2 separate regions of the Homo sapiens genome follow, and region 2 is linked to region 1. Evidence: fine-mapped expression QTL. A gene starts in region 1. The other region holds a variant in brackets. All regions are shown on one strand. Distances are between the middles of the regions.

The links.
Region 2: its variant is fine-mapped to the expression of CLN6 in whole blood (TOPMed, PIP above 0.99).

Annotation. Positions count from the first base shown.
Region 1 is chr15:68,228,276-68,230,775 of GRCh38, forward strand. It overlaps CLN6 (CLN6 transmembrane ER protein), which reads right to left and starts at 1,453. Exons shown (of 7, transcript NM_017882.3): 1 at 1,227-1,453. The coding sequence starts at 1,309. RefSeq lists enhancers at 738-807, 838-917, 2,148-2,197 and silencers at 958-1,547, 1,317-1,496.
Region 2 is chr15:68,204,641-68,207,642 of GRCh38, forward strand. It overlaps CALML4 (calmodulin like 4), which reads right to left and starts at 692. Exons shown (of 5, transcript NM_033429.3): 1 at 605-692; 2 at 481-511. The coding sequence starts at 607. CLN6 (CLN6 transmembrane ER protein) reads right to left here. Exons shown (of 7, transcript NM_017882.3): 7 at 2,352-3,002. RefSeq lists an enhancer at 1,391-1,685. The variant C/A (reference allele first, on the strand shown) is at 1,472.

The sequences.
Region 1 (2,500 bases):
TCGTACCAAAAACTTCCTAACAAGGACTTTGCGCATGCTAGTGCTCAGAAACTTCTCACGACTCCCCAGTGCCTATGGGATAAAGACTGTGTCCTTAACCTGTCACCTAGGACAGGAACTAGGGTGAGACAAGCAAGGCCTCCAAGGCCCAACATTTGAGGCGGCACTCACGGTCACGGCAGTGCGCCTACCCCTAAGTTTTGCAATCTAGGTCCTCAACTCGAGTCCTAGACTTGCTGCAATTAAAGGCCCTTCACAATCAGTCTGCATCCTCCTGTCACTTTCTTTTACAGCCGGAAAGCTCCAGCACCACTAAACTCCTTGCCCTTCCCCACTGTTTCCCTGGATGGAACAGCCTGTCTTCCCTGGGTCCCCTACCAAGTCCTCTGAGACTCAGCTCAAGTGCCACTTCCTCCATGAAGCCCTCCAAGATGACCGCTCACTCCCACTTGGGCTCTGTCTCTCCTGATCCCTACAGGACCGTAAGCCTCTCCCACCTTCACCCTGCCTACCCCCTTACTGCCTGGCACAGCGCTGGGCATACCACAGGCGCTTAAAGAATGCCTGCTGAATGCAGTGAATGTTTCTGGTCAGTAAAACGGGACGAAGGTAGAATGGAGCTCTGCTCGCCCAACGAGATAAACCAAAAACTGAGAAGGGCTCCTCATTCATTCTCTGGACGGCAGCTTCCGCCCTTCCCCGCTGTCTCTTCCATTACATTCGCACATTCTTGGGTGCCCCAGGTCAAGCAGACAGCCTCCTGATAAATGACAGAATCAAGTCCTACTCAGGGCTGGAGGGACCCCGAGAACGCGGAGGTGGCGCCCGGAACTTGCGGATAAGTTGGGGGTCCGAGTGACGAGGTGTGTGTACCCACCGCCCTGGGGAGCTCTCCCAGCGCAGCGGCTGTCCCGGCGCCAGCCCGGGTCGCTGGAACGCGGGAAGGGAGGAAAACCCCAAACTTCGGGCGGGCGCTCCTCCCACCCGAGCAACGGCGAAGCGGGGAGGCCGAGCCCCGCTGGGCCCCAGGCTCCCCAGACAGAGAAGGAAACGCGGGGGCACCGCCGCCACGGTAGCGCGCCTCCAAGCCCCCCGCGCTCCGCTCCGCCCCGGCCAGCGCCGCACACGAGGTTCCCGCCCGGCAGCCCTAGGAGCGTCACGTGGCGGGTCCCGAGGCCCCAGCGCACAGGCGCCTAGCCCGCCCTCTCACCCCGGCGCGCGCCCACCTGGCCTGCAGGAAGGAGGCGCCCAGCTGCGCGCCTGGGCCGCCCGTCGCTCCCAGGTGCTGCCGCCTCCGCGTCGCCTCCATGGCTGCCCCGCAGGCCCCTCGGCCCTGCCTTTCCGAGGAAGAGACCGGTTCAGCTCGGCTGCCCCGGCGGAGGCCGCCGCAAATTCCCAGCGCGGGGCGGTTCGGGGCGGGCCGGCGAGAGCGCGCGGCCCTCGGGAGGAACAGGCGGGGCTGCGGACCCGGGGCGGGGCGGAGCGGAGCGGAGCGGAGCGGAGGGAGGCGGGGCGGAGGGAGACGGGGCGGGCTCCGCTAGGGGAGGGCCGGGCGCTGCGAGTGTGGCGTCCTCGCGGGGCGGGGGCTGCTGGCCTGTCCGGGCTGCGCGCGTGACCACCAGCGGGCTGGGATGTGTTAGGGTCCCTTGCCTGCCTGGGTACGGGAATCTCTGTCTAGGGTGACTGAGGCCTGGGTGTTGGGCTGGGGCGGGGTAGCGACCTGGAGATAGACTAAGCTGATTTAAATGCTCCCCGGGGCAGAGGGTTCTGTGGGATTTCCCTTGTTCTTACGGGTGGAGGAGAGGAGGCAGGACTGGAGACCTGCACGTGTAGCACCCGCGTGGTGCAGCACGTGGGTTGCAGATGTTCTAGTGAGGGGCTGGCGGTGACAGTGGGAAGGAGCGAGTTGGTGACATCTAGAGTCGTGTGAGAGGTATGGTGACTGGGACTCTGGATGTGGGGGGTGAGGGGAGAAGAGTTCAGGCAGTGGCCGGATTCTGCCCCTGGGTGGATAGTGGAGGCACCCCCCGGGAAGTGGGCTAGAGCAGATTTCGTGTAAATAAAGATTCATCTTTGAACGCATTAAGCTTGAGGTGGGTCAGGAAGGCTGTTGGACCGGTGGTCTGAAGCTGAGGCGAGACCTGGGAACCCAGTGGACAGGCTCGTGAGTCACCGGAGCATACAAGACAGACAGAACCTAAGGGGACAGCATCCTCAAGTGAAAAACAGAACCAAAGGTCAAACCTGAGAACAGCCTGCAGGGCAGATTGCCAGGACTTCATTAGTGGTACCACTTTGAACTAGCTGTGATGCGGGCAAATGGCTCAACCCCTCACAGCTTCAGTTTACTCATCTGTAACAAGAAGATGCCTATTGCATCTACTACATTGGAGTTGTGATGACTATATGAAACTCTTAGCAGAGAGCCCAGCACTGGTGGACTAAGTTATTTACAATAGCCCGTCTCGAGACCTGAGGTTTCCCTCCACAGAAAGGTTAC
Region 2 (3,002 bases), 23 kb before region 1:
GCTTGATGCCAGGGCAAAGGGGGCTCAGTGGACCCTCCATTTTACAGATAGGGAGACTGAGGCGCAGAGAGTAGACGCATCCTGCCAGAGAGTGCAGACCTGGCCTCTGTTCTGTCTCAATTACAAAGCCCCTCCTCTTTCCCTGCTGCCAGCCATACCTTTAATGGTCTCTCTCTCCATCCCCAGTCCCCTCAGTCCCCAAATCCAACTGGTCAGGTTCTGGAGGGAAACCTAGTAAGTTCTGTCTTAGCGCCCTGGCTTGTAAGTCACACTGACAAGTATAAAGCCACATGTCTATTTTGGAGGCTTACCCCCAACCCCCACCCCGCCAACAGCAGCCTCCCCGCAGCTCTTGGCCCTGGGTGGGCCCAGCTCTCCCACAGCCACCTTCCTTCCCACCAAGAAAACATGAGCAGAGCAAATTGCCTAATGAGACCCATATTTTGCTGAGTTGCTAATCAAAGAACAAACCCAACCTACCATTAATTTGGTCTTGGGAAAGAAACTTGGCCTGCAGCAGAGAAAGGAAAACAGTCAGGGGAGGGCTCCACCTGAGGTTCACGCCCCCAGCCCTGGCCAGGCCGACACAGACCCTCACACTCACCATTCTGGGGCCTCGGCTGCTACCCGTGGGCTTGCTGCTCCCAGAACCGCGTTCAGTTCCCTTTCCTCCAGCCTCAAGTCTAAAGTCTGCCAAGCTGGGTGGAGGCCCGGGTAATAAATGCTCGGCTGCCATGGAGACTGGGCCCGACGCCACCAGGGTCAGATTCCAGCTTCCTGAGCACAGCTCATGACCCGCCACCTGGGCAGGTTGGATTTTTGAGGAAATGGGGCTGCAGAAGGCTCTCCCTGGGCTCAGAGTCTCTGCCTCCAGAAGCCGAAGCAAAGGGACAAATGCCAGTGTTTCTTCCCGGGAGCCCTGGACTCCAGGAAGGGGTCTTCTCTCTCTCTCCTGGGACTCGGCGGGGATGCCATCAGGCCCCTACTAGAGTTGGACACTTTACACCCCGGGTCGTATTGAAGGCTCCTCACACACCATCTTGTAGGAGGAAGGGAACCCTTCCAAGACGGCCTAACTCAGAGATGGGCACCGGGGCTCGCAGGCTTGGGGCTCGGTATTGCAGGGATACAAGCTTCGGTGCTCTCAGGCTGGGATTCAGTCCTCCCCGTCTGCTGACTTGCTGAGTGACTGGCGAATCATTCTACCTCAGTCTGTGCCTCAGTTTCCTCACCAGCTGAATTACAGGGCAGCTGGCAAAATCAAGTGGCCAGCGCACAGCCGGTTCCCATCCTGTGCCAGTTCAGTTCCCACCTTCTGAGGACTTTAAGGGTGGTGGAGGGGCCTGAGCCGGGTCTCCAGCCCCACCACAGGCTCCTCGGGGGCTTGGAGTGAGGCCTCTTAGTGCCGGTTACCCTGGCCAGGAAGGCTCCCCTTTTCTTCCTTCCCTTCCTCTCTCCACCCTCAGCCCCA[C/A]CCCTTCCGCAGAAGCTGCTGACGCTCCCAAGTCTTCAGGAGTTCGTGCTGCTCCCCTCCCCCACATAGGAGGAAATGGGGGCAGGGTGTGAGGCCTCCCCAGCTTCTTCCCCTTGAGATCCCATTTCCCTGTTTGGGGCGTGAGGCTTTTGTCCACAGCTGAGTCTATGAGGCTCTACAAGTAGGTGTGGCTGCACAGGTGTGCCCTACACAAAGGCCCCCAGCCCAGGTGCGAGTGGTTGCTGGCCAGGGGCTGCACTGCCAATAGGAAGGGGGGCATTGTGCCACTTTGCACACAGGCGCATAGACGGGAGGCGCTGCCTGTGCCCCACTCTCCCCTCCCCGCTCCTTTCCTGACCGCCTCTGTGTGGAAAGTGTGCTTTTCTCCCAAATCACATCCCCAGAATCGCTTTACACCTGTTTCTAGACCCAGAGAATTTTAGCTGGGGACTCCGACTCCTCCCTGTCAGAGTTTGAGGCTCCCCCTCCCAAACCCCATGGCAGGGATAAGAGGAGGGAAGGCTGCCTCTGTGCAGAGGATGGAGAGAAGGACATCAAGGAAAGTCACTTGGGACTCTGGAAGCCTGAAGGCGGCCAGGCCAACATGCTCCCTCTGAATCCCCTTGCCTGTGGGAAGGGGCTCCAGAAGAGATGAGGTGCCTCCTTGGAGTTAGGCCAGTGTGTGCTGGGGTGCCCCGGCCAACTCCCTCCTTATGTGTGTAGGTGTCTCCGGGGGTGACGCACAGATGGAAAACACCAGCGTGGGGCAATGGCTGCGTGAGGGTTCACGATACAGCAACTCACCATGCTGTAGGGCGCACCGTGTGTGCTACACCTCAGCACGAAAGGGAGAAAAGACAAAAAACACCTCTAACACCACTTGGGGCTGTGACTGTATTTACTTCATTCTTGAATCCCGCGTCCCCGTGGCTGGGGGCTGACACATCCCTGGGCACCACTGTGACTTCCTGTGGGTCCCTTCCCTTCTGTCCCTGACTCTGTAGACCCCCCACAGGAAGGGTCCTAGGTAGGGGGAGGTTCCTCCTCCCTTGAAACCCTGGGCCACTCTGTCAAGGCAAAGCCTCTGGGCCCAGCACCTTGTAAAGGCTTTGATGAGAGGAGCTCTGGCTTTTGCTCAGGGCCTTTGGCACCCCACCCTCCAGCCCCCAGGAATGCAGGCGCTCAAAGCCTGTGGCTAGGCTGCCCGAAGCGCGTGCCGCAGTTCTTCTGGAGTGGGAGCAGGGGGACAGAGCTTTGGGTAGAGGAGGGTCACCTGCAAAGCTGGAATGCCAGGGGAGTGGGCGGTGCCTCCAGCTCCTGGGGGCCAGGGTGTCTCCATACCTCATGGGCCTGAGCCTGGGCAGGGGTCTGGAGTGCACATAGCCCCCAGGCAGGGAGAGGGCAGTGACAGGACAGAGCCACTCATCTGTCCCAAAGCTGCACCCAAGGGGTGTCAGCAACCCCAACCTACTGACCTACTTTGGGACCACAGGCCCATCTAGTGCAAATGAGGCCCAGAAAGGAGAAATGC